Linked DNA regions of Homo sapiens: regions 1, 2, 3, 4, 5 and 7 are each reported to be linked to region 6. Evidence: microRNA targets listed by miRTarBase, many of them from high-throughput screens and not tested one by one. Region 6 holds a microRNA gene; each other region holds the end of a gene's coding sequence.

The links. Region 6 holds the annotated microRNA hsa-miR-128-3p (UCACAGUGAACCGGUCUCUUU, at 2,053-2,073, shown strand). A microRNA usually pairs through its seed, bases 2 to 8, with sites in the 3' UTR of a target mRNA and lowers its output. Matches are read on the target gene's strand: a 7mer-m8 pairs with bases 2 to 8, a 7mer-A1 pairs with bases 2 to 7 and ends in A, and an 8mer does both.
Region 1: miRTarBase lists IHO1 as a target of hsa-miR-128-3p. The part of its 3' UTR that is shown has no 7-base or 8-base seed match.
Region 2: miRTarBase lists PRRG4 as a target of hsa-miR-128-3p. The part of its 3' UTR that is shown has no 7-base or 8-base seed match.
Region 3: miRTarBase lists PLAGL2 as a target of hsa-miR-128-3p. Seed matches in the 3' UTR shown: 7mer-m8 at 2,419-2,425, 7mer-m8 at 2,161-2,167 and 8mer at 1,183-1,190.
Region 4: the mRNA of USP25 is a reported target of hsa-miR-128-3p. Seed matches in the 3' UTR shown: 7mer-m8 at 920-926 and 7mer-A1 at 1,537-1,543.
Region 5: the mRNA of ZFP1 is a reported target of hsa-miR-128-3p. The part of its 3' UTR that is shown has no 7-base or 8-base seed match.
Region 7: the mRNA of TMTC3 is a reported target of hsa-miR-128-3p. Seed matches in the 3' UTR shown: 7mer-A1 at 2,354-2,360.

The regions. Positions count from the first base shown.
Region 1 is chr3:49,257,076-49,261,141 of GRCh38, forward strand. It overlaps IHO1 (interactor of HORMAD1 1), which reads left to right. Exons shown (of 8, transcript NM_001135197.2): 8 at 1-1,031. The coding sequence ends at 207. Among named protein-coding and RNA genes, the nearest start is that of MIR4271, 15 kb to the right of the region's middle.
Region 2 is chr11:32,853,214-32,857,279 of GRCh38, forward strand. PRRG4 (proline rich and Gla domain 4) reads left to right here. Exons shown (of 6, transcript NM_024081.6): 6 at 83-4,066. The coding sequence ends at 314. Among named protein-coding and RNA genes, the nearest start is that of PRRG4, 25 kb to the left of the region's middle.
Region 3 is chr20:32,192,708-32,196,776 of GRCh38, forward strand. PLAGL2 (PLAG1 like zinc finger 2) reads right to left here. Exons shown (of 3, transcript NM_002657.3): 3 at 1-4,069. The coding sequence ends at 3,745. Among named protein-coding and RNA genes, the nearest start is that of PLAGL2, 13 kb to the right of the region's middle. RefSeq lists an enhancer at 3,596-4,069.
Region 4 is chr21:15,877,920-15,881,988 of GRCh38, forward strand. It overlaps USP25 (ubiquitin specific peptidase 25), which reads left to right. Exons shown (of 26, transcript NM_001283041.3): 25 at 1-72; 26 at 384-2,145. The coding sequence ends at 556. Among named protein-coding and RNA genes, the nearest start is that of USP25, 150 kb to the left of the region's middle.
Region 5 is chr16:75,169,951-75,174,019 of GRCh38, forward strand. ZFP1 (ZFP1 zinc finger protein) reads left to right here. Exons shown (of 4, transcript NM_153688.4): 4 at 1-2,284. The coding sequence ends at 384. Among named protein-coding and RNA genes, the nearest start is that of ZFP1, 23 kb to the left of the region's middle.
Region 6 is chr2:135,663,394-135,667,462 of GRCh38, forward strand. It overlaps MIR128-1 (microRNA 128-1), which reads left to right and starts at 2,004; the gene lies at 2,004-2,085. All of the region lies in intron 19 of R3HDM1 (R3H domain containing 1), which reads left to right. It overlaps LOC124907893 (a long non-coding RNA gene), which reads left to right. Exons shown (of 2, transcript XR_007087245.1): 1 at 1-3,164. RefSeq lists an enhancer at 1,322-1,421.
Region 7 is chr12:88,195,074-88,199,142 of GRCh38, forward strand. TMTC3 (transmembrane O-mannosyltransferase targeting cadherins 3) reads left to right here. Exons shown (of 14, transcript NM_181783.4): 14 at 1-4,069. The coding sequence ends at 576. Among named protein-coding and RNA genes, the nearest start is that of TMTC3, 55 kb to the left of the region's middle.

The sequences.
Region 1 (4,066 bases), not on the chromosome of region 6:
AGGGCAGTGCAGGGAAGACTCTTGCAGCTCAGCAGGTGCTCTTCCCAAGACAACTGGCTACTTTCCAGCAGTTCCCAGGGGGACCACCAGATGAGCTGGTTCAGTGACCTCAATCTCGGATGTTCAGAGACCCCTCTATGCAAGGAGGCAGGAAAGAATTTGCTCTATGACCTGGGTTTTGATAGCAGTGATGATGATGGCTTCTGACCAGTCCACAGTTGATTTATTGGTCTCAGCTAGAAAGAGAAATTGCAGGACATTTGGGCTGGCCAACAGCAGAAAGTCCCTGAAGCCTGCCAAGTACCCAGGGTCAGAGGCCCTGCTGAGGTGGGGCAATGAGCACGAGGGCAGGGAAGGTCCAGCATTCTGGGTACCAGGTGCTGCCCCTGACAAGGATTAAGTGCATCCTTATTTATTGGAATGAAATGTGAAAATGGTGCTGATGAAAACTGAGGCAGCAGCCTGGTTGTGGGGCATCTGGAGCAGGGTGCCTGTACTTTGGCGAAAGGCAGGCAGGCCTCCTTATGGAATACTGTGTAGCAGAAGGGCTCTCATAAAACTGTTGCGGTGGCAGCATGACTCCAAACAACATTTTTGGGTCTTTAAAATATTCCCTACACATGACCAATACATTTTCAGGCCTCAGGATTTTTTTCTTTCTTATTTTTAGCCACTTATGCTACCAGAATGTTTGCATTTTTTGATCAGTAGACATATTACAGGACACCCTAAATCTTCTTGTGAACAGAGAAAATAAAATGATAAGCCTGCCAGTGAAAGAGGTGACATTCACTAGCAAATGTCCAGAGCATATCACTGCTCACAAGCCATTTTTCTTCCTGGTTGCTTTTTCCCTTGTCCTGTTTTTCAAGCACTTTCTTAAAACTAATAATATTGTAGACCTTGTATTTCTGAAGAGCAGTGGGCTTATATGGGACTTTGGCTTTCCATTTTTATCTTGCTGAAGTTTTTGAGTTTTTGCAACACAAGTATTTTTTGTTATCAGAAATAAGATAAAACATTTAAAAGCATATATTTTTTTTCTTTCTTTCCACCCCCACCCCCAACCGAGATGGAGTATTGCTCTGTCACCCAGGCTAGAGTGCAGTGGTGTGATCTCAGTTCACTGCAACCTCTGCCTCCTGGGTTCAAGCAATTCTGCCTCAGCCTCCCAAGTAGCTGGGATTACAGGCGCCCACCACCACACCCAGCTAATTTTTGTATTTTTAGTAGAGATGGGAGTGTCACTATGTTGGCCAGGCTGGTCTCGAACTCCTGACCTCATGATCTGCCTGCCTCAGCCTCACAAAATGCTGGGATTACAGGCATGAGCCACTGCGCCTGGCCTATTTTTTCTTTCAAGTTTATCAAACTGATGTCCCGGTTTAATTTTTTAAGTTTACTTAGGAAATGAAATAGAAGCCAGGCACACTTGTAATCCTAGCACTTGGGGAGGCTGAGGCAGGAGGATTGCTTGAGGCCAGGAGCTCAAGACTAACCTGGGCAACATGGTGAGACCCCATCTCTTTTTTTTTTTTTTTTTTTTTTTTTTTTTTTTATTGAGACAGAGTCTCGCTCTGTCACCCAGGCTGGAGTGCAGTGGCTCGATCTCGGCTCACTGCAATGCAAGCTCCTCCTCCCGGGTTCACACCATTCTCCTGCCTCAGCCTCCCAAGTAGCTGGGATTACAGGTGCCTGCCACCACGCCTGGCTAATTTTTTGTATTTTTAGTACAGACAGGGTTTCACTGTGTTAGCCAGGATGGTCTCGATCTCCTGACCTCGTGATCCGCCCGCCTCGGCCTCCCAAAGTGCTGGGATTACAGGCGTGAGCCACCGCACCCAGCCCTTTTGTTTTTTGAGGAGTTTCACTCTTGTTGCCCATGCTGGAGTGCAATGGCGTGATCTCAGCTCACTGCAACCTCCACCTCCCGGGTTCAAGCGATTCTCCTGCCTCAGCCTCCCAAGTAGCTGGGATTACAGGCATACGCCACCACACCTGGCTAATTTTGTATATTTAGTAGAGATGGCTTTCTCCATATTGGTCAGGCTGGTCTCGAACTCCCGACCCCAGGTGATCTGCCCGCTTCAGCATCCCAAAGTGCTGGGATTACAGATGTGAGCCACCACGCCCGGCCTGTGAGACCCTATCTCTACCAAAAAAAAAAAAAAAAAAAAATTAGCTGGACATGGTGGCGTGCACCTGTGGTCTCAGCTACTTGGAAGGCTGAGATGGGAGGATCACTTGAGCCCAGGAGTTTGAGGTTACAGTGAGCTATGATTGTGCCACTGCACTCCAGCCTGAGTGACAGACCAAGACCTTGTCTCTTAAAAATTAAAATGAGAGGCCGGGCGCAGTGGCTCATGCCTGTAATCCCAGCACTTTGGGAGGCCGAGGTGGGCGGATCACTAGGTCAGGAGATTGAGACCATCCTGGCTAACACAGTGAAACCCTGTCTCTACTAAAAATACAAAAAAAAAAAATTAGCCGGGCGTGGTGGCAGGTGCCTGTAGTCCCAGCTACTTGGGAGGCTGAGGCAGGAGAATGGCGAGAACCCGGGAGGTGGAGCTTGCAGTGGGCCGAGATCGTGCCACTGCACTCCATCCTGAGCGACAGAGTGAGGCAGAGCTTGCAGTGGGCCGAGATCGCACCACTGCACTCCATCCTGGGCGACAGAGCGAGACTCCATCTCAAAGAAAAAAAAAAAAAAGGCCGGGCGCGGTGGCTCACGCCTGTAATCCCAGCACTTTGGGAGGCCGAGGCGGGCGGATCACGAGATCAGGAGATCGAGAACATCCTGGCTAACATGGTGAAACCCTGTCTCTACTAAAAACAGAAAAAGTTAGCCAGGCATGGTCGCGGGCGCCTGTTGTCCCAGCTACTCGGGAGGCTGAGGCAGGAGAATGGCATGAACCCGGGAGGCAGAGCTTGCAGTGAGCCAAGATCGCACCACTGCACTCCAGCCTGGGTGACAGAGAAAAACTCCGTCTCAAAAAAAAAAAAAAAAAAAAAATCAGGGCCGGGCGCAGTGGCTAACGCCTGTAATCCCAGCACTTGGGAGGCCCAGGCGGGTGGATCAAAGGTCAGGAGTTCGAGACCAGCCTGGCCAATATGCAATATGGTGACACCCCGTCTCTACTAAAAATACAAAAATTAGGTGGGTCTGGTGGCACGTGCCTGTAGTCCCAGCTGTCCTGGAGGCTGAGGCAGAAGAATCACTTGAACCCGGGAGTTAAAGGTTGCAGTGAGCCGAGATCATGCCACTGCACTCCAGCCTGGGCGACAGAGTGAGACTCTTTCTCAAAAATAAAAAAAAAAAAGAAGATATGAAAATCAGATACATACCATCTTTTTAGTTCCTAAGGCTCTCACAAGATTATTTTGAATAAACACCACCCATTCAAACTGGTTTTTCCCTTTCCTGTATTATATGAAGGGGAAAATCCTCATGGGATGGATAGTTTCCAGAATTTGCCCATTTCCAAGCCAGTACAGTAAATGACACTGGGGCCGCTGAGTGGACCACTGTAGAAAGCAATGGTTCTTGTTTCTTATTTTTTACATTATTTTCAGGGATGTGTGTCCCATCAAAGTCTCATTATGGAGGAGTTGAATTTTCCCGGGACACCTGTGGCAGGGCTGCCAGACACCAGCCTAAACTGCTCTCACTCTCATTTCCAGACCAAGGGCCTCTGGTGGCCTGTAGGGAGCCATGGGCAATCACAGCAACCCTCTCTGAGGCCAAGGAAGTTCAGGTATGAGCTGTACCTGAGGCTGCCCTGGCCTCTCCTCTCCCGTCAGTCCTCACTGGGTGTCTTCTCACCCTGCCCTCTGCCAGCTCCACTGCTTTCCCTGCTGGGTTTCATTGCTTGTGCAAGGAAGATACGGAAGCCACACAATGGGTTGGTTCTTTCTAGCCCTTCCCAGACTGACTATAGGCCAGCGGGGTCTGTATCTAGAAATCTTTTATTACTCTAAGTTGAACAGTTTAATGATTAGTCATTTTAATTTAGAGTTGAGATTCCATTAGTATTTGACTGTGGCCTTCTTATTGAGAACTCTGTTC
Region 2 (4,066 bases), not on the chromosome of region 6:
TAGTTGGTTGGATTTTTAAATATTGTCCTCTCAACCTAAAAATGCTACCTTTCCTAGACCTAAATGTTGTCTCTCTGCTTAGCTCTTCAGCCGTCTATGAAAGGGGGAGGCACACTCCCTCCATCATTTTCAGAAGACCTGAGGAGGCTGCCTTGTCTCCATTGCCGCCTTCTGTGGAGGATGCAGGATTACCTTCTTATGAACAGGCAGTGGCGCTGACCAGAAAACACAGTGTTTCACCACCACCACCATATCCTGGGCACACAAAAGGATTTAGGGTATTTAAAAAATCTATGTCTCTCCCATCTCACTGACTACCTTGTCATTTTGGTATAAGAAATTTGTGTTATTTGATAGGCCGGGCATGGTGGCTCATGCCTGTAATCCCAGCACTTTGGGAGGCCAGGAGTTCGAGACCAGCCTGGCCAACATGGTGAAACCCGGTCTCTACTAAAAATTCAAAAATTACCTAGGCGTCATGGGGCATGCCTGTAGTCCCACCTACTTGGGAGGCTGAAGCAGGAGAATTGCTCGAACCTGGGAGGCAGAGGTTGCAGTAAGCTGAGATCACGCCACTGCATTCCAGCCTGGGCGACAGAGCAAGACTCCATCTCAAAAATAAAATAAAAAAAGAAAGAAAGAAAAGAAGAAGAAAAGAGAAGAAGGAGAAGGAGATGAAGGAGGAGGAGGAGGAGAAGGAGAAGAAGAAGAAGAAGAAGACCACAAAAGACATGACTATCCAACTTTTTATGACAAACTGCAAGGAATAAAGGAAGAATAAGTCCATGTACTGTACCACAGAAGTTCTGTCTGCATCTTGGACCTGAACTTGATCATTATCAGCTTGATAAGAGACTTTTTGACTCTATATCCTTGCAGTTAAGAAGAAAGCACTTTTTTGTAATGTTTGTTTTAATGGTTCAAAAAAAATCTTTCTTATAAAGAGCATAGGTAGAATTAGTGAACTCTTTGGATCCTTTGTACAGATAAAGGTTATAGATTTCTTGTGTTGAATATTAAAAAAGCAAGGATGTCTAACCATTAAGATTATCCAAAGTCAGGCTGGGCGCAGTGGCTCACGCCTGTAATCCCAGCACTTTGGGAGGGATAGGTGGGCGGATCACCTGAGGTCAGGAGTTTGAGACCAGCCTGGCCAACATGGCAAAACCCCGTCTCTACAAAAATACAAAAGAAATTAGCCAGACATGATGGCGGGTGCCTCTAATCCCAGCTACTGGGGAGGCTGAGGTGGGAGAATCGCTTGAACTCGGGAGGTGGAGGTTGTAGTGAGGCGAGATTGTGCCATTGCACTCCAACCTGGGCGACAGAGTGAGACTCCATCTCAAAAAAAAAAAAAAAAAAAAAGATTATCCAAAAAGATATTGGACCTACTCTTTCTTAGGATTTTTTTGGCGGGGGGTTAGAAATACTTCACAGAATTTGACATTTCAGTATAAATCTGTGACCTTAATATAATCACTTGGTTTTATATGTTAAATTATTGCACAGCAGTCATCATATTTTGCAGAGTTTAGTTCTTAACTCTTGCTGTCAGTCATGTTTTATTATAGGTAGTGGGGTCAGTAGTTTTCTTCTTCTAAAAAATACTATTTGCTATGAAGTTAGTTCTTCAGAAGATACAAGTTTGCAATGAAAAGGATTTGCAAGGGTTGTTATGCTATCAAATAAACAGACCTAAAATCTAGGAGACACTAGAACTTAATGAAGTTGCCCCTGTTACTGATTAGTAAATACTCCCATCTTCGTTGCAAAATTATCTCTCTGTATAACTACATATGATTATTTTGAAATTTGTTAAACTTCATAAGTAATAGTTTGAGAATGTGGAAAAAGTAATTTGCTTTTCTGCTCTTAAAATAATATTGATTAATGTTACCAGAAACCTTTTGCATCTCTTAATATGTCTGAACACAAAAGGAAAACACCATAATCATATAAACCCATTCTTTGTCTCTTCTTCTAAATCATATGTATAACCAGTTTTTCCTTAAGAATGTAGCAGCATATAAGCTATAAATTTCTGGAGTATATGCACACAAATTTATCTGGGTGGGTATGTAGGTATATGTGAGTTTGTTTCCTCTTCCAGGAGCTCAAGAAATAACATACTCCTGAAAAATAGAATAGAAATTTCTGTGCTTTATGTTTTTGCCAGGCTATTACATTTTCTTATCATTTAGGATCACTTATAAAATGATCATTGTTTATTTTGTTTTATAATTTTTACAGGAGTGAGACTGCAAACCCACATGTTTGATAGTTCCTACCAAATTAAAAGTTTAGAAAGCATAAATCATATTACAGTGCATATGTGAGTGTATGTCTCTCTTTTAAGATGCATCATCTTAAGGCAGATAAAAGTAAGTCCTTAATCATTACAGACTGCCAAAGACTTTATCCTTTTAGATTCTCAGTCTCTTTGTTGCTTGTTGCAAATAAATCATCTAGCAACATTTACATTTAATTAGGAAATCTAACTTGCTTTTAAAAGTTACCCACGTTGCATATAAAAATCTTGCTATTCCTTGTGTCTTGGCTTTACATAAGCACTTTTGCTCATGTGACTTTGCACTTTGCACTTATTTTAATCCTCTTTAAAGGGCTACAGGCAAATTCTACTTTGCCATAATCACACTAAGGCATGGAAGAACAACTTGCCCAGAATCTAGCAGGTTGGTGACAACTGGGTTTAGAATGAGTGAGCACACTTTTCTAGTCCCATGTCATGCCTATAAAATTACACTGCCTCGAATTATGAAATTCAGGGATCTTGTACATAATTCTAAGTTTGGGACAGAAATTTACAAGCATTTCTCATATATACATACATTTATATATGTACATGTTACATATATTTAGATGTATTCTCATATACATATGAAAATATTTATGATGAATAGAATTATAAGATATGTATGTATCTTGCACTGAATCATAATTTGAAATATTTCATGAATTCATTTACTTCTATTGACTCCCAAAATTCTAACTGCAAGCTAGCTTCAGAACCTGTGAGAACCCCACCCCACCCAAGCAGCTGCCTAGATTTGTCTACTGCTATCATTTTGTGTAAAGCAGTTGCTCTAACTTGAATGAGTCTAGAATTCATCATTAAGATTGTGATATTTATAGAGCATCCAATGTGGAGATCATGATACTTTAAATATAAAAAGGAAAATATGATAGAACTGTTATTGACAAATGCTTATAATGATTGAAGGGAAAGTATCTCAACATTGTATCAGTCACATATATTTCTGTTGCTTTCACCATTTTCTATTCCTGTTGTAAGTTTGGTGGTAGATTTAGTTTTGTTTGGTTTATCTGTTTTGTTTGTGTTTTGTCTCCTGGCAATTGATTAGTGTTAATCATTAAATCTATTTTGACACAAGGTTTTATATATAATTAGATCAGTTTTCCACTTTATTACAATTAAGAAATGAGTAAAATATGGATATAAAAGGAGAATTGGATTGAAAAGACAAATACACATTTACAAGGTCATACCTTTGGTAGGACAGACAATTCCATATAGAATATTCTCTTTTGATAATGAAAAAAATTAAAGAGAGCACAAACTTTGACTATGTCAAAGTATTTTTATTTTTAATTTTTTGAGACAAGGTCTTGCTCTGCTACCCAGGCTGGAGTGCAGTGGTGCAATCACAACTCACTGTAGCCTGAACTTCGGGGCTCAAGCAATCCTCCCACCTCAGCCTCCTAAGTAGCTGGGACCACAGGTGCACCTCGGTACACCTGGCTAATTTTTGTGTTTTTTGTAGAGACAGGGTTTCACCATGTTGCCCATGCTGGTCTCTAACTCCTGAGCTCAAGGAATCCACCCACCTCGGCCTCCCAAAGTGCTGGGATTACAGGCATGAGCCACCACACTGGACTGCTGTGTCAAAGTTTTGCATCTTTTTTTTTTTTTTTTCCAGAAGGAGTCTCACTTTGTCACCCAGGCTGGAGTGCAGTGGAGTGATCATGGCTCACTGCAACCTCCGCCTCCCAGGTTCAAGGATTTCTCCTGCCTCAGCCTCCTGAG
Region 3 (4,069 bases), not on the chromosome of region 6:
TGCTAGAAGATTTCTGTCTTGTACTTTTCTCTTTAAATAATCTGGAGTTACAAAAGAGTGGCTCCAAAGCCTTGACCGCTGGTAGGGAGGGAGAAGCATGAGAAGTGGTGTCTCAGGAGTTCTAGTGCCAAAGGTGGAGAGGTGCAAGTGGGAACAATCAGCTAAGGAAGTCAGCTGACACACAAAGAAATCGGACTGGAATTTTTCCAAACCCCTCTATGGAGGCACTAGGTTATCATGGTGAACACCCTTTTCCCTCGCCATAGACCCTACTCTCCAGAGGTGAAGGTCATGGCCAATTCCTTCCACAGCAGGTTCAGAGTTCCAGGAGAGGCCAGGGTGGGATCCCAGAGGAATCTGGACTTTTCTGGCCAACACCTGCCTAAGGCAAAGTTTCTTATTACATAAATATCCTTGTTAAAAAGCAAAATATTGATCCTGTACAATATAACCTGTTAAAAAAATCGTGCTTACAAACAGCTCCTAGATAAGAGGGCAGGTGGAGAGAGGACGGAGAAAACAGCTACCAAAAAGGGAGGGGGGAGTTTAAAGGACTACTAGGGAAAGTTTTAGGGCAGTGGGAGAATTCCAACTTAGGACAATATCTACGAGCAAAAAAGTAATCACACCTGCTTCCCGGATTTTCAATTAAGAAAATGCCATTTGTAAAAGGTTGGGCGGTGGGCTGGAGGGCGGGGGTTGCAGGGAACCTCATTGGCGCTCCTTTCCCTGCCTCCCACCTCAAGATGATGCAGAGATCCTTTGAGCTGACACCTGGGCATGTCATCCCCTTACCCCCAGGACTGTACTCAGCCCTGACCAGCTACTGTGTAGGGTGGGAGGGGGACAGCTCATTGCTGGCAGAGGCTGGAGGTGGCAGGGAAAGGGGACATCACTTTTTTTCCTGGTCCCTCATTGGTCTTTGTCATATGCCATGGCTCCTGTCCTGGGCAGATGCCCCTCAGGTTCTCATGGCCTCAGTAAGCATACTGAAGTGAGTTCGGGTACTGAGTGCAGGATAAAGCTATTCTTATCCTTTGAACAACCAGGCCACTAAGGCTTTTTTTTTCTTTCCCCCCGACCCCCCAGATTTTAGGAAGGGAGGTTTAAGAAATGACTGGCTAGCTATGGTCCAAAAAAAAAAAGGTGAAGGCAGATATTATTCCTCTGTACCAGCAAAGTTCACAGTGATAGGAAAATTCCTTGTGGGTGCTGAGGACACTGAGAGGAGGAAAGGAAAGACAGGATAGATGGGAGGACACAGGAGTGGGGAAGGCAAGGAGAAAAGACAGGAGGTGGGGGCAAGGCCCCGGTTACAAAGGGTTTAAACAGTTGCTTTGCCAGTCCTATGACTTTTCCAGCATCACTTACGGGGAGAGAGAATTCGAGGGAGGGACAGGAAAGGGCAGGCAGAGAGGAAAGGACTCCTCTAACAGCCCGGGACTTTGTATTCTGCAGCCAGAGGCCCAGTGGCCTCTGTAAACTGAGAGTGTAGGGAAGGTGGCAGTTAAGGTGAGAAGGGTTGCTGAGTCTAGTGATGAAAACCAGATACAACAAAGAGGATGGCAACAGCGAGTCCCAACTGGATTCTCACATACCATCACCTATAATACAAGTCCCAATAACATGCACAGCATGCAGGAGGTGGCTGCGTACCAAGGTAGACACTTTTTAAAATAAACCTTAATTAGTCCCTGGGACTCACTGAAACTAATTTTTAGAAGCAAATCATCTAGTCTGATTCTAACCTTGCCAGACATTTTAATATCTGGTGTTTTTAAAAAGGTATCCCAAGCTACCCTGCCTAAATCAAAACACACTTACTCCAAATTGCTTCTAATCAAGAGCTAGGGAGCTAAATTTTAAGGCTTTTACCTCAAACAAGGAGTACTGGCTTAGGCTGAAGCAGAAAGCTGAGTCCTGGACCTGCTCAGTTCCTGATGACAAACCAAGTGAACCTAGACAGAAGGTGGGTGAGGGAGGACTGGTAGGAGGCTGAGGCAATTCCTTGGTAGTTTGTCCTGAAACCCTACTGGAGAAGTCAGCATGAGGCACCTACTGAGAGAAGTGCCCAGAAACTGCTGACTGCATCTGTTAAGAGTTAACAGTAAAGAGGTAGAAGTGTGTTTCTGAATCAGAGTGGAAGCGTCTCAAGGGTCCCACAGTGGAGGTCCCTGAGCTACCTCCCTTCCGTGAGTGGGAAGAGTGAAGCCCATGAAGAACTGAGATGAAGCAAGGATGGGGTTCCTGGGCTCCAGGCAAGGGCTGTGCTCTCTGCAGCAGGGAGCCCCACGAGTCAGAAGAAAAGAACTAATCATTTGTTGCAAGAAACCTTGCCGGATACTAGCGGAAAACTGGAGGCGGGGGTGGGGGCACAGGAAAGTGGAAGTGATTTGATGGAGAGCAGAGAAGCCTATGCACAGTGGCCGAGTCCACTGTAAAGTGGAAGAGACAGAAGGGACATTGTGGATAAGGAAAATTTTGGTTTGGGACACAACAATGTACCCATAGATTAGGACTTAGCTATCTACCCATTCCTAACCTTCTGCAAACTCTTCTTCCAACAATTCCACAACTTCCCGGAAAAGGGACAGGTGGGAGGAAGACCAATGAGGGGCTCAGACTTCCTCCTTTGCTATCCACACCAACCCAGACTCTGCTTCCAAGACTAATAACAACAGCTCATGATGTTCAAGGTGGGGACTAGGGGATGGGGAGGTGACGGACGTGGGCATGCCTTTCATTTCTTCCCCTCTCCAGTTCAAGAGAAGGATGAGGGGGTCATAATGTACTTGGAGAAAAACAGAATTGCAGACCTGTGAGAAAACTGCTCCAATCCTCTTGCCTGTCTTCTGTGGATACCGCCGAGGCAGGCAGGAACAAATGCAGTCATGGAAGATGGCAGAGACTGAAGCAGTCCAAAGTCAGTTTATTTCCCCACGGGGGAAAAATGTGACCTCAAATGAAGAGAAGTCAGCAAGCCCCGACTCCACCTTGTAAACAGGACTCCAGTTAACACCAGGTACCAAATGGTTCAGGCTGGTGCCAACTGGAATGGACTGATGGGAATGGATTCACGGTGTGTAAACAGTGTTCACTGCAATCACTCTAAGGCTAACAGCTTGGCAAGGGAGGTGAAATGGTGTGTCTGAGGTGACTGTGTAAACGGTACCGTTGCTGGACAACACTGACTGAAAACGGAGGTGCTGGTACAGGAGGAATGGGTGGGCGAGAAATAAAGGCCTTCTCTCCTGCCCATTGGTTGGAAGCAGGCAATGGAGCCAAGTGACCTTCTACAGCAGGGCCTGACCAACTGACTGCTGTGGGGTCTGCAGGTTGGGACCAGAAGGTGGGCTTCTTGGGCAATTTCTCTAGAGGTCATCCAAGGTGAAACCCTCTGTGTCTCCAAGAGGCCTCCCCATTCTCCAAAGAGAAGGAGGTTCTGGCGCTTTGGAGAGGAAGAGGGCCAAGTGTGGCTCCCGATTCAGGTCAAAAAAATAAAAGTAAATAATACCTGAAGTCCTACGGTATGAGATCTTTTCACGGGGTTGGGGCTCAAGGCTCCTTCTGGAATCGATCCTAGAGCCTGAACCCCCAAACCAAGTGCTCCTGTATACAGACACTGGAATTTTTTTTTTTGAACCCAGCTCTGAAAGCTCAGCTGCCTTCATGGGGGACACAGACGGGGTGGGTACTAAGGCTCCATAACAGAGCCAAAAACTGAGCTGAGGGCCTCTGTGGGGGCTACTGGAATGCTTGATGGAAACGAGGCAGGGTGGTGCTACTCAGGCCAGACGTGAAGACAGGAGGCAAGGAGTGCAGAGGCCCAAAGTTCAGTGGTCCCCCAGCTCCTGGGGAATCTTGAGGCTGAGCTTGCAAAGTGGTAAGCAGGGGCTGTGCCTCAGCCTGGGAGTAGCCCATGACCAGGCCTCCTGTGGCCCCAGGTGGGTTACACGGGGGCAGGTTGAGTGGAAGAAAGCCCAGTAGGTGGGAGAAGTCCACATTAGCAGCGCAGAGGGCCTCAGAGAGGTTGGCGGGGCTCTTGGCAAGCAGTGCTTCATCTAGGAGG
Region 4 (4,069 bases), not on the chromosome of region 6:
AAGAAAAGGATATACTAGCTGTAGAAGATATGAGAAATCGATGGTGTTCCTACCTTGGTCAAGAAATGGAACGTAAGTTTAAACAATGGTAGTAGGCACCTGAGATGTCCGGATTAAATGCAGTTAGAATTAGATGTTATTTATTCTTGCCATTTTTTATATTAAATACAATATTAAGTATTAATATTTTCACATTCACATGATTACTCTTTTTCCATATTGATGAACTAAGCTGTGTGCATTGCAGTTGCCATTTATGTTTTTGTCTCCCCAAAATGGCAATTATCTTACCTATTAGAGTAAGTTAATATTAGTAAATCATGTTGACAATGATCGTGTAATAATTTCTATCTTTAGTTAGATTTAATTGTTTGTATTTGCAGCACACCTCCAAGAAAAGCTGACAGATTTTTTGCCAAAACTGCTTGATTGTTCTATGGAGATTAAAAGTTTCCATGAGCCACCGAAGTTACCTTCATATTCCACGCATGAACTCTGTGAGCGATTTGCCCGAATCATGTTGTCCCTCAGTCGAACTCCTGCTGATGGAAGATAAACTGCACACTTTCCCTGAACACACTGTATAAACTCTTTTTAGTTCTTAACCCTTGCCTTCCTGTCACAGGGTTTGCTTGTTGCTGCTATAGTTTTTAACTTTTTTTTATTTTAATAACTGCAAAAGACAAAATGACTATACAGACTTTAGTCAGACTGCAGACAATAAAGCTGAAAATCGCATGGCGCTCAGACATTTTAACCGGAACTGATGTATAATCACAAATCTAATTGATTTTATTATGGCAAAACTATGCTTTTGCCACCTTCCTGTTGCAGTATTACTTTGCTTTTATCTTTTCTTTCTCAACAGCTTTCCATTCAGTCTGGATCCTTCCATGACTACAGCCATTTAAGTGTTCAGCACTGTGTACGATACATAATATTTGGTAGCTTGTAAATGAAATAAAGAATAAAGTTTTATTTATGGCTACCTATGTGTTTGTAAGCAGGTATATTGTATATTAGTGTATTAGTAATACTAGATAAATGAATTTTGTCTGGGGATTAAGATTGGATAGTTAATAGATTAATACAATCTTTTAATTCTGCTCTAATGCTAGCAAATTGGAAAATGTTTAAGTCTTTGACACTTAAATTTATCTATATTTTTAACAAAGTTCTTGAACTTAGTATGGCACCGGAACCTGTTTTGAATTCAGTCAGGTTTTTACTCAAGTAAGTGGTTGATTTTTTTTAAGTCAAACTACACTGAAACTTTTATCCTTTTCTTAGATTAATCTTACTTTTTAAATGTATTTACAATATACAGCAAGGTGATTATTTCAAGAGAATCCCAAAGTACTTGAATAAGGGCTATTGTAAAATTTAAAAGAAATATTTATATATACACATATATACACATACACACATGTATATATATATTCTTCATAATGGAGGACAATGTTTTGCAATATATAAATCATTCTATTTTTGTAAATTGTATATCACTTTAATTGAAAATGTTCTCTACTAATTAATACTGTGAAACAAAATTGATGTTGTTTAACTAGAAGTTATGAGTATCTTAACTGCCTTTATTCCTTTTCAAAAAGGAAAAAGCTGTAGAACATTTTGTAGATGAAACTACTGTTTAAGATTAATGAATTAATATTGTGAATGAAAATCAAAATCCATACTTTAAAGGTAATCATGTTACTAACAACCTATTTTTGAATTCATAAAAATTTCTTTATAAATGATGTTTTGTGAACATAGTAAAATAGACCATTATACTATGTGTATGTTTGATACAGCGTCGCCAAAACTAGTGTTCTTTATTAGTGCCTCTCACAAAAGATCCTGGATGGAGGAGTAAGATGAAATATTATGCTATTATATGATGCTGTTTGTAAAGGTATTAATGTACTAGTAAGGTGTTAATGACAAGGAATTAGTACTATTCCTGTTGTAAAGTTAGATTTTGCATATTGTATCTATCAAAATATGTTTGGGTTTAGATTTTAAGTTGTCTACTGAGCAGATTTCTGCATTGGTTTTCCAGTCCTGTTAAAAGTTTAGAAACTTCATATGTGTCATCACAGCTTTTGTAAAGAAAGTATCCTTAATATTTTATGACATTCTACCACAGTGGTAAAGTTGTTTGTGTTTGTGTATAATTGACTGCTGAGATACAAAGTGCCCAAACACTATATGGAAATTATTCCTTCAAAGTCACATCCAGAGAATCATGTCACTCTTGTGCTGAAGGTAAGTATTATAATTGTATTTACTATGTACTTAAAAACCAGATTATTTATTCCTAGTAATGAATTTGAAATAACTTATTTAAAGAAAAGTGACCTTTTTCAAGACCTACAGAAACAACTTATTTTAATATTGGTTTTTAATCTAATTGTAAGGTTTAGATCATTGAAATTTCTTTTTTTTTTTTTTTTTAAATTTCCAACTTTTAAGTTCAGGGGTCCATGTGCAGGACATGCAGGTTTCTTACAGAGGTACATGTGTGTCATGGTGGTTTGCTGCACAAATCATCCCATCACCCAGGTATTAACCCCAGCATCCACTAGCTATTCTAACTGATCCTCTTCCTCCTCCCAGCCCCCACCCTCTGCCAGACACCAGTGTGTGTTGTTCCTTCCACCATTGAGTCCAATATGTTCTTATCGTTTAGCTCCCGCTTATGAGAACATGCAGTAGTTGGTTTTCTGTTCCTATGTTAGTTTGTTCAGGATAATGATCTCCAGCTTCATCTGTGTCCCTGCAAAGGACATGATCCCATTCCTTTTTATGACTGCATAGTATTCCATGGCGTATATGTACGTTTTCTTTATCCAGTCTATCACTGACTGGCATTTAGGTTAGATTCCATGCCTTTGCTATTGTGAATAGTGCTGCAGTGAACATACACGTGCATGTTTTTATAAGAGAACAATTTGCATTCCTTTGAGCATATATCCAGTTACGGGTTTGCTGGCTCAAATGGTATTTCTCTCTTTAGGTCTTTGAGGAACCATCACAGTCTTTCACAATGGTTGAACTAATTTACACTTCCACCAACAGTGTAAAAGTGTTCCTTTTTCTCCATAACCTCGCTACCATCTGTTGTTTTTATGACTTTTAATAATAGCCATTCTGACTGGTGTGAGGTGGTGTCTCATTGTGGTTTTGATTTGCATTTCTCTAATGATCAGTGATACTGAGCTTTTTTTCATATACTTGTTGGCCTCATGTATGTCTTCTTTTGAGAAGTGTCTGTTCATGTCGTTTGCCCACTTTTTAATGGGTTTTCTTTTTTCTTGTCAATATCATAAGTTCTTTATAGATGCTGCATATGAGACCTTTGTCATATGCACAGATTGTAAAAATTGTCTCCCATTCTGTAGGTTGTCTTTTTTACTCTGTTGTTAGTTTTGCCATGCAGAAGTTCTTTAGTTTAATCAGATCCCGTGTGTCAGTTTTTGCTTTTGTTGCAATTGCTTTTGACACTTCGTCATGCAATCTTTGCCCATTCCTATGTCCTGAATGGTATTGCCTAGGTTTTCTTCTAGCGTTTTTATAGTTTTGAGTTTTAAATTTAAGTCTTTAATCCATCTTGAGTTGATTTTTGTATATGGTGTAAGGAAGGTGTCCAGTTTCAGTTTTCTGCATATGGCTAGTCAGTTCTCCTAGCACCATTTATTAAATAAGAAATATTTTTCCCATTATTTGTTTTTGTCAGGTTTGTAGAAGATCAGATGGCTATAGGTAGGTGTGTGGTCTTATTTCCGAGTTCTCTATTCTGTTCCATTGGTCTCTATGTGTCTGTTCTTGTAACAGCACCATGCTGTTTTGGTTACTGTTGCCTTGTACTGTAGTTTGAATTTGGGTAGTGTGATGCCTCCAGCTTTGTTCATTTTGCTTAGGATTGCCTTGGCTACTCAGGTTTGGTTTTTTGTTTCGTTTTGTTTTGTTTGGTTCCATATGAATTTTAAAAGTTTTTTCTAATTCTGTGAATAATGTTATTGGTAGTTTAATGGGAATAGCACTGAATCTATAAATTGCTTTGGGCAGT
Region 5 (4,069 bases), not on the chromosome of region 6:
TTTGAACTCACCACACACCAGAGAATTCATACAGGAGAGCGACCCTATGAGTGTAACGAATGTGCAAAAACCTTCTTTAAGAAGTCAAACCTTATCATACATCAGAAGATTCACACGGGGGAGAAACGCTATGAGTGCAGTGAATGTGGAAAATCCTTTATCCAGAACTCACAGCTCATCATACACATGAGAACTCATACAGGAGAGAAACCCTATGAATGTACTGAGTGCGGCAAAACTTTCAGCCAGAGGTCAACTCTTAGATTACACTTGCGAATCCACACAGGAGAGAAACCATATGAGTGTTCCGAATGTGGGAAGGCCTTTAGCAGGAAGTCCCGACTCAGTGTCCATCAGAGAGTTCACATCGGGGAGAAACCCTGAAACTCCAGCCAGGTCTTACTGTGGAAAACTCCTGCCAGAACTCTTCAAGCGGGTGAAAAACCTCATGACAGTATTGAGGGAACATGGGAATTCATACTGAGATGCAATCTCTCAACTCAAAAATGTATTAAAAATAGGATCCCATGAGAACATTATACTGGAAGTTACATGTGATACCCAGCTAAAGAATACATATCAGAATATATCCAGTTGTAAATAGCCATACCCAGTTGTACTACAATGAGCTTTTTAAAATCTTGAATGAATTGAGTATTCTAGACAGCAGCATAAGAAATATACAAACAGTATCCTATGAATTTAGTGGTTTTATGTGGATATGCCACAAAACACAAGTGGTATGCTTTAGATCTGCACATGTGAATTTAGCATAATCACTGGGAATTTGAAATTCTTGTCCTCTGTGATAATTAGGACATAACAAGATTTTCCATACTAAACATCACATGTGTTTTTCAGTATCTCTGCAATCCAGTATGCATTCCAAATGAAATGTGTAACATTTAAAGTAGCATGGAACCTACGTCTTTCCCTACTGCTTGCTGGCATATATCAGTTGGTATGAACATTGTTCTTGAGCTGCCTCTTAGGAAACAGAAGACAGTGTTGAAGTTTTCCCTGCTTCTGGTTTGCTGAAGATTTTCTAGAAGCACTATTTACACAAATATGCAAATGTGAAATAACCGATCTATAACGTGAAGGAGGCAGACATGAGCTGTACTACTCAGTATGCACCACAGAATAAGAGTTTGCCGTGTAAAGACAATATCCCCATTCGTCATGCTCTTATTTTCCCGTGGGATATTTGCATACAAATGCATGTCTGTTACCAAAATATTGTGTAACACAGACAGAAACCACCTGTTTTTGTCTTTCCTTGTTTCCCTTAATATTTCATGAATTGTCTAGCAAAAATGGTAGGATGCTTCTGTAGTTCACAAATGTTACATTTCAGAGACTTTAGAGGAAAAATTATTTTAAATAACTGTCAACTGTTTCATTGCTTTTTAAATTTTTCACGTGCATAACCCCCTTTAGAAGTAAATTTTTACACTATTTTGTTGTTTAAAGGAGGCATTTCTACTTCCTTGAGTTTTGCTGTTGCCAACCTAAAACATTTCCCTTTGGAACATGAGTTATAAGTTATTACTTTTCCTTTACATGTTTACACTTTTATAAAAATCAGATTTTTCAGTGGTCTCTCCAGATATTAACAAGAATTGTTGTGTAACTCAAAGATTTGCTTTTATAGACTTGATTTCAAATTCTTAAGTTCAGCCTTTCCCTATCAATCACAAATCATGTATTGGAAATTATAAATGGCAACCAAAAACTGGCTTTTAAAAAATATTTTTGGATATCATTGATGTGCTGTCACACTATATATTGAGTGACTTTCTGAACAAATTTATCCAGAACATCCATAGCCCAATAAGCTTTTGTCTAAGTTGTCATCTTACTTACTCACAAAGGAGGGGAAAACGTTATTTTCATAGCTGCTTTTAGAAATGTAAATTGTAACAGCCTCCTTGGACAACATTGTGAGTCTGTTTTAACATTAATATACTCTTACAACCTAGGAATCTCCTGGGAATCTATCCCTAAGGAATAAAAAGCGCCAGCACTTAAGATTATATGTTTACTAATGTATATTGTATTTTTTGGTAAGGACCAAAAAAACAAACAAAAAAAAGACCATCAGTAAGGGAATGGATGAATAAATTGTGGTAAAAACATACCATGGCTGAATGGTATTTCCTTGAAAAGAATGTGTGGGAACAAACTCCAAACTTCTCTAGGTCAAATGAGGAAAGCAAGAGGGGAGAGAGAGAGTGTATGTGTGTGTGTAGCAGTTTTTATAAAATAAAGATAAACCCTTATATATGTGTGTCTTTGTATATGATTTTATGGGCCTGGTGAATAGAATTCCTTCCATTTTTAACCTGTGGACCTCACCAGCTTTATCAGTGAGGGCTTTAGCAGTAAACTGAATTAGCGCCTTATGAAAGGATGACTTGGAGAATGAGAGAAGGATTAAGGGAACAAACAACGGATGGTAAGGAATCCAGAGACCAGCAGTGCCAAGAAGCTGTTGTCTCCCTAGGGACCAAAGGAAGAAATGGTGTTTCAGAGCCCAGTGAGAGCCAAAATGTTGGAAGGTCTCTTTCCTGTAGGAGATAGAAAAATAAAAAGGAAGAGTGTCTCTTAAGTGGATGTTGAAGCTCTACAAAGATGCAGCTACTGTGAGAAACACAGAACTGTCAGGAAAGGGAGCAGAGGGGGAAAAGCCTCAGCTCTTTATTGCTGTCTCCTGAAGATGCCTCCATCAACTGAACCTAATCAGAAGCCCGGGTGATGCCGTCCTCCTGGGATAAAGCAGGGTAGAAAGATGGAGGATGGACCAGGAGGGGAAACAGCACAATCAGCAAATCTCCCATCTCAGTTTCAGCCTTGCTGGTCCGACTGTAATGAGGCTTTCCCAGAAGGACCCTTCTTCCCCTATGGTCATTCCAAGTGGCAACTGTTTGTCTCATGCCTCTTATGCGTTTAGAGGTAAGATGACTGACTCTGAAGCCCAATTTCAGAGGAAATAAAAATTTGGGAGTTGTCACAGGGATAATATTTTAAGCCATAAAGCTAGGTGAGATTACCTAGGAAAAAAAAGTATAAAGAATGTCAAGGACTGAGCCCCGAGCACTCACCCCAGTGTTTGCTGGGCAGGAACTGGCAAATGAAACTGAGAAGGAACCACCAGGGTTAGGGTGAAAACCAGTAGAGGGTGGTATCTGAAGCCAGCTGAAAACACTTATTTTGAAGTAGAAGAGTGGCCACTATATCAAATACTAATAATTTGTATGAAGTTGGATATATGCTGAGATTAACCATCAGTGAGGTCATTTTGAAAAAAACAGTTATAAAGGAGTGGTCAGGGTAAATCTAGGAGGATTCAAGATAAACTTGGAAACAGGAGCTGTGAATAAGGGGCCAAGTGTTAAGGACTGAAAAGTCTGAGATTTTGTCCTACTTGCAAGGTAACAAGTTAAGCTACCAGTTTCATGGATACTGGCAGAAGACATACTGTACTGACCTCGAATACACATTTGCTGGGTGGAGTTACAGGAGGGGAGGTCCAAGTTTAGGGAGCCTGAATCTTAAACAGTGGTCTAGAAGTAAATCTATCAAACCTTTGTCTAGAAGGAAGACATATTATACTGGATGCTAAACAAACTGTTGCTCTGGAGAACGGATTACCTATCTAAGGCTATTCATCCTGAAAACAGCCTGTAACAAAAGCCATCACCATATGTACTTGTAAGATAGTGAGAAACGTGAGAAACCCATGGAGAATTGTCTCCCAACACAGAGAAACGGATGGGTAACTGAAGAGATGGGGGCTTTTGAGGATTTTGGTGTTTTAAAATATTAGAAATTCTAGGATAAATTTATATACTCATGGGAACGATAAGTAGAAAAATTGACGCTGTACGAGAAGAGGAGGAGGAGAATGGACTAGAGCAGAGCCTGAGCAGGTGAAGACACTGGGATCCAGGGTACTAGTGAAGAGGTCAGACGCTGGAGCACCAACCAGGAGGAAGGCAGAGCGTGGGCAGAGAAGATGCTAGAGCTTGTGAGTGTTCTTGTCTGATTGCTTTTATTTCCACTGTTA
Region 6 (4,069 bases):
TCATAATATAACACTTTATAAAAGCTAGACTTGTCCTTTCAGCTGTTTTATATAGTATCCTCTTAACTTACAGCTTAAGTTAGTTGACTCATTCAGTTTGAAGAATAAAAGGAATAAATCCTCAAAGCATTCTTATCTAAAAGAGAAAGGAATTTTGTTATGCTAATAAGTATCATAGAAAATTTTCCTTTAAAGAAAAGTTCAGCAGGGCCAGTGCCAACTGTTGTGTTGGTAATTGTATTGAACCTTTTCATAGAATTAGTGGGGATTTGAACTCTTTTTTAAAAGTTATAATCTAAAGACTTTTTTATAGTTAGCTCATCATTAATTTTTATGTCAAAACTTGCAGAAGGCCAGGCACGGTGGCTCACACCTGTAATCCCACCACTCTGGGAGGCCAAGGCGGGTGGATCACCTGAGGTCAGGAATTTCAGACCAGCCTGGCCAACATTGTGAAACCCTGTGTCTACTTTAAAAATACACAAAAAAAATTAGCCGGGCATGGTGGCGCACACCTGTAATACCAGCTACTCGGGAGGCTGAGGCAGGAGAATCGTTTGAACCTAGGAGGCGGAGGTTCCAGTGAGCTGAGATGGCGCCACTGCACTCCAGCCTGGGCAACAGAGTGAGACTGTCTCAAAAAAAAAAAAAAAAAACTTAACAGAAAAGTGTGCATTTATGTTTGTATGTGCCCTAGTGTAGAAAAGTAAAATGTACTGGGAAATTAACATGATAGTTTATTGTTTTTGAGTTTTTTTACAGGTATATAGCAATTACTGTCTCATAATTTACATTTTTATATGGAAACATACTTCTGGGTTTCCTTTTGGTTTTTATTTTCTTACCTCTCTACATTCTACTATCCCAATCTGATTAAAAATGAGAAATACTTTTTCATATCTCTTATATTTGTATTTCTTGTCAAACAACACTTGCTTACCCCACAGTGTCAAGAAGCATGTTTTTTTTTAATTACATAAAAGGGTGAAACTAATTATTCAACCAAATAATGAAAACACTAGTAGACTTGGAGCAATTTTTTTTCACTGTGGCACAAGTAATGTTTAAAAGTTTGTATTTGAACTTAAAGAAATTTTGCCCTAAATTAACAAGCCCAACTGAGCAAAGTATTTTTAGACCAGATAGGGTATGGGCAGTAGAAATACAGGATCTTTCATTATTTTTCCTTTGGTGGATAGGGAGGAGGATGGGGAAATATCTCAAGGATAAAATGCTCTAGGTCTTTTATCCATGTGTCCCAGTGGACCACAACTGAAATCAGGACTAACATTACTGCTGGGGAAATGAATGTACTAGTCTTTTGTTATGAATGTGAAACTACTGAACTGTTCATTCAAAACAAGGTTGAGTAAACCCCTGTCAACAGAAACAGAAGAAACCCTGGCTACACACATAAGACTTTCTGAACAATGCACTGTATAATGGGAAAGAACAACAAAATAAAAGTCAGAATCCTGATGGCCCTTAGTCATTTGTAACTGGTGTTAGGCATATCACTTAAAGCCACTGAGTTTCAGTTGGACTCATTTGCAAAGTATGGAATTTTTACTGTGTTGTCTGTTGAAGCCTCTGTGTACTGTAAAACTCCATAATTCTTTGTGTCTCATGTGAGTCATTTCTAGTTCTAAAAGGTAGAATAATAGAGAATTGGTTTGTAACAGCTTGGCAACCAACTGTCAATAACTGGAGTCAATGAAAGCAACTATTTCAAAAGATCAGATTACTTACCAGTTTCACTAATAAAGATTTATTACTTTAAACCTTTATCATAAAATGTATGCTTTGAATACTGTGAAGTACACTGCATATAAGGAGTGTGGTATAGTATAAAGAAACTTTCTGCAGGTAGTAATTATAGTGAAGATTTTAGGTTTACAAAGCCCTAGCTGTTTTCTGTGTAGCTTTTATTATTCTTATGACTCTTGACAAGTTTGTAGCTTCACCATATACATTTAATATTTTGCAATAATTGGCCTTGTTCCTGAGCTGTTGGATTCGGGGCCGTAGCACTGTCTGAGAGGTTTACATTTCTCACAGTGAACCGGTCTCTTTTTCAGCTGCTTCCTGGCTTCTTTTTACTCAGGTTTCCACTGCTTTTTTGCTTTTTTTAATGCTGTATGAAGGTGTTAACATTTGTTTATATTTTTCATTAATTGTAATACCTTTAAATCATGCATCATACTCAGAAATAGGGATTAGAATTTAAGTGACATCTTTGGCCTAATATAATTTACCTGTTAAAAATTTGTGAAAGCTATTGCTTATTTCTTTTCCAAAGTAGATTTGGATGACAAATTCAGTTTGGTTTTGAGCTTATCTAAAAAGCTTAATGTTTTAAGCATACCAAACTCATTAGCAGAAGTCAAATATGTCTCTCCCTATTGCTACACAACTTTTTAGGGATATTGTTATATATGAAAGCATGACATCAAACGGACCTAATACACCTAAATGCATTTGAAGCTACTTGGTCTCGGTTCTTACCAACGATATAATTTAATTTTTTTTTCCAAACGATGATGTTGTTGCATACCTGTGGAAAGCAAAATGATTCTGTGAAACTATACTTTTAGTTTTGCAACCATTTGATAACTTCAAAGATTATCAATGTATTATATCTTTAGTCTTAGCTTTCCAGATAACCCAGAATCATATGGTTCCAAGTTGATTAAGCTTTGTTACCAGCAGACTATGGTAGGATCCTGATGAACGACACTATGGAAGAAACTTGTTAGGATAAACAGTCTTCAATGTGTGCATATTGTTGACAGAATTTGAAGGCACAAATTTAAGAGTAACTAGGGTGTAAAAGGCGAGCAAAGAAAAGTCAGCACTACTGGGTAAGCAGGTGAGGGGGCTTATTGATAGGAGAGTCGGCTATGTCAAATAGGGACTCAAGGCACAAAGTCAATTTCTTTACTGACAACTTTCAATCCAAGTAATAGGAATTTTGTATTTGTAAATTACTAGGTAGTGGCTCTGGCTATTCTTGTTTTTTCATTGATTTCTGTGAGCATTTCTTAGTATGTATTGTGTGATTCAGCATAGATTCAGACATTGTATAATACCTACAAATCCACCTATTTCCCTTTTCCCTTCTCCATTAACCTGCCGCCACTGAAATCTGGAGCCAAATATATCTGGTAAGTACCCACAGATTTCCTTGAGTTGTATAGACTCTTCCATGGAATAGTTCTTTAAATAGCTGTGAGCAATAAACTCTGTGTGACTGTTTTTGTTAGAATTGGTTTTTGTATATGTATATGTTTATTTCAGGCACAGGAGTGAGAGAAGAGGGGATGAGAGATGAGAAGGGATAATCAAGTGTGATGGCAATTGCATCTCCTTCCAAATACACCCATGGGGCTGGCTTTAGTTGAACTTGCCCACCTACTAAAATAGTGCCACAGACAGAAGCCCAAGATTATAAGCTTGAGGTTTTAACAATTTGGTCTTGTAGATGCCTAGTTACAAATAAATTTGGCTTTAGTAAAATGGCTCATCTTTAAAAAAAAAAAAAAAGAAAACTACCTTCACAGTGCTTCTATTGTACAAGCACAGTCTGGAAAAAAAATTAATAGGTACTATTAAGTGAAATAACCTTAGATTCATGGGTATTCTAAGCATTTCTTTAATACTTTTTGTAATTTTTCTGATTATTTCTGTGTTATTAAGAATGCTTTCCTTTAGAACAAATGCTAGTTCAGATCACCTATATAAAATAAAATCAGCCTGTTAATGCCTGTTCAATACTTTTGTGCTGAGCACTGCATTTCCTTCCTGCTCTCTTCTTGGTTAAAGTGAGAGTTAAAAATAGAACATTCTGTGGAGCCCTCCAGGGAAGTTCCTGAACCATCAGTTTATATTGTCCTAGTTCTCTTAGCTTGCAGAATTGATTGTGCTTTCCTCTGAAAGTGCTGAAAGAAATGGGATAATATTGCAACAGTGCAGTCCTTTAACAAAACAGAATGGTAGTGTTTTAAAAAAAAAAATCTATGTTGAGATCTGGATATTTATTTTGTTGTTTGGTATCACTTACTATTGGCAT
Region 7 (4,069 bases), not on the chromosome of region 6:
ATTTTGGAGGAGTTACTCAGATACTACCCTGATCATATCAAGGGCCTCATTTTAAAAGGAGACATTCTGATGAATCAAAAGAAAGATATACTAGGAGCAAAAAAATGTTTTGAAAGGATTTTGGAGATGGATCCAAGCAATGTGCAAGGAAAACACAATCTTTGTGTTGTTTATTTTGAAGAAAAAGACTTATTAAAAGCTGAAAGATGCCTTCTTGAAACACTGGCATTAGCACCACATGAAGAATATATTCAGCGCCATTTGAATATAGTCAGGGATAAGATTTCCTCATCTAGTTTTATAGAGCCAATATTCCCAACCAGTAAGATTTCAAGTGTGGAAGGAAAGAAAATTCCAACTGAAAGTGTAAAAGAAATTAGAGGTGAATCCAGACAAACACAAATAGTAAAAACAAGTGATAATAAAAGTCAGTCTAAATCCAACAAACAATTAGGAAAAAATGGAGACGAAGAGACACCCCACAAAACAACAAAAGACATCAAAGAAATTGAGAAGAAAAGAGTTGCTGCTTTAAAAAGACTAGAAGAGATTGAACGTATTTTAAATGGTGAATAACATTAATATTTATCGTGACAATGGTATCAAAGAACATCAATCCGTATCATGTGATTGCTTTTACTGGGAGCTTTGAAAAAAAGTTCAAGGGTTCCTAATGGTCAATCATGAGCTGCCTTGAAGTAGGATCAAAATAAGATTTTCATTAAAGACCTGTATTATCCCAGGATGTATATTATGTATCGCTGTTTTCAGAGTGTGGGTGAATATAGCAGAAATATTACAGCGGAAGTGACAAATTTACAACTTTTATTATAGAAAGAAGGTGTTTCTGGCAATGTAATCTTTACTGCTCTCAATTAAAAATAATTTTGAGGCCTGAATGATAATCCCTTGAGGACAAATCCAACATGTGCTGGTTTATTCTGTTAATTCCCATTTATTTGCCTACTTCATTTTTCTTGCACCTCTTAGAATCTAACTATGAATTGAAAACACTTAAGTAATTCTGTTTAATCAAGGGATTTACACTACAAAAGAATGCTGGCTTTTTTTATGTTGTATTCCTTAGTTGAGTTTTAGAAGGAATGCTTGATGAAACATTTTAAAATAAGTCATGACATGTTAGCTTGAGAATGTATTTTCATAATTGTATACTTGTTTTTAACTTTAAATGTAATTTTTAATCAGGTAAAGTTTGACACATGTATAGCTACATACACACATTTTTAATGGTGCTCATATATACTGTATTTTTTGTTGTTTAGTTTTACTTATTGAGAGTGTCACAACATGAATCACATAATCATGATTTTTTTTTTTTACTTTTACTCCCCAAATTATTCATGTTTCTTAGATCGTAGTCATTGAGAAGTCCCAATAACTCTAAACTTTTGAGTTATAACGTAGTAAACTTCTCTTTCATCTTTGTGTTAGCTCTGTAGTCTTAACCTGGATTTTAATTTTTTTGTTTCCAAAGTCACAATTGAATTATTCTTAGATACCTTAAGCCACTGAATTCAGTTCTGTTTGACTGAAAGCAAAACAACGTGACAGTTTATTTTCAAACACTAACTTCTTGATATTTTGTTATGGTATATCTTTTTATTAAATATTTATTTTGACTAAGCTTTCATAAAATATTTGAAGCTATTTTAATCATCAAGTATGGAAAACAAATTACTATTGCATTTTCCTATATATGCATATATTATGGATTAACCAGAATTGTATCATTTTTGGCCTAATGTCTGGATATAAAAGATAATTAGCCTACTATAGTATTAATAAATTTTTCAGTTGGTTTGGGCAAATTTAAACCTGAAAAATAGGTTAAAAAGTAGTTACAAATTAAACTTACTAATTTATACCTGATTTTTTTTCTTGAATTAAAGTACATTTTAAATGAGCTTTATAATACCTTAAAAAGTTGGTTCTAATTTAAAATATGAAAGCTCTGGCTATCATCCTGGGATAGTAATTTCTAATTATATAGTATTTCAAAACTATATATTTTTTAGTTCCTTTGAGATAACTAATTTCTAATTATATATGTTTCAAAAACCATATCCTGTATTTTTTTTAAGAATTGTTTTATAAATAGGTCATAAGATACAAGGTCTGCATTAGAAGACCCACTCTTACTAGGTTCCCTAAGGATCTGCCATAGATTTTTTTTTTTTTTTTTTTTTTTTTAGGTAGTTTAAAGCAAGCACTGATACCAGTGGGAGTTGGTCTTGATCTAGGAGATTCTGTTAAGCATCCAAAAACAATGCCTAATTTCAGTTCTTAGGTTATGGCTTGTGACTCCAGATAAAAGATGGAGAATACCTCATGTACTGTGACTTGAAAATGAATTCTTAAAATTCTTAGGCTCTCTCCATGTATCTTTCTTAAGGAAAAGTTTCTGAGTGTGATCTCTCTTTTGCCATAGTATCAAGTGGAGGGTAGTTCAGAAAAGTTAATAGGAAATCTTTTGTGACAGCAGACTATAATAGAAGTTTGAGTAATATTTTAATAAATTTATATAATTCAAATGATAAAAATGTATCAATGTTATCCAATGATTTTTATTAAAAAATTACCTTATTATTAGAACTGTGCCTATTACATAAAAAGTGCTCATGTATTTGAATTTTAAATAATTTATTTAAATCAAGACCACCATAAGTCATTAATAATTTAATAATTGTTTTAAATCAGTGGTTTTCAACCCTCACTTCATATTAGAATCATCTGAGGACTTTTAATATGGAATCCACCTCATAACAATTAAGTCTAAATTTCTGGAAGATGGAGCCATGCTTGTTTTTCCAAAAGCTCTTTGAGTGATTCTAATTTGTAGTCAGAGTTGAAGACCACTGCTCTAAATTAGTGCAGGAAAATGCTTTTATTTCTCCCATGTTAACTTTTAAAACTAGTAATGTACCCAGTTAAGTTTTGATGGTTTAAATTCCACTAAAGAACATATTCTTCTAATAACTAGCATTTATTACATGAAATTTAAGAGTTTAAGTTCCATCAAACTAGCCCTTGTGTAAGATTATTATTTCTTCTCTATAACTTCAAAATAGATATTTCATTCAAACTGTTCAGGTGAGAAAACATAATGGATTTTTTTTTTTTTCCTCTGGAGCTGCCTGTTCAGTGAGATGGAGGAGGTGGGCACATTTAAGGTCAGTTCACTAACCTATGGTTCAGAGTTCTGATCATATGGAAGTTTGGAAAAGAGAGCTTATCACAGGTTTGTATGCTGGTGAATGGATAGTTTTAATTCTCACTGTCTCAAAAGAGAATCAGCTCTCCAGCAGTTCTAGAAAAGCTTTGACAATCCCCAAGGGGCAGTGTTACCTTACTCCTTCACTGCTTCTTAGAAGGTAGAATTAAGTTTCTGGAATTGCACCTACATGTTTTCTTATTAACATTCAGAATTGGGAATATTAATTTTTCCAGTGAGTAGTTTTCTGAAATTGGTAACTTGGAGAGTAAAATAACGTATTTTGCTTTTCAATTTTGTGTTTGTTTACTTTTATGTAAAAATTTGATATGTGAATTACACAGTTCTAATAAAACCTCATGCCTTTTCATTACATCTAATTTGAACTCTCAACTTCATGTTACAGAATGCTTTAAAGATGCTTTAATGAAAAGTATTAAGAAAATATATAGATTTGTATGTCAGTTTATACTTCAGAAATCCATATATTTGTCATATTTATTTTTTTAGAAACCTCCTAATTGGATAACTAGATGGTATTTAAAATGAATGCCCAAAAATATCTTGTACCTTTGTCCAAAAGTTTATCTGTTGGAAGCCGCCAGCCATTCATGTAGAGAGTTTATAAGAAAATAATTTAAAATTGTATGCATTTTATATTACTATGGTATCTGTGTACCATATTTCTAAGTATTCATTATTAAATTGGTACTTCTTAAAACCATAACCTGGCTTGCCTTTTAGTGTTAAAAAAATACAACATTGTATATAGAGATTTCTTTTATGAAGAAGAGCTGACGTAATTTATTAGCAGTGATCTGAGAAAGACATTAAATA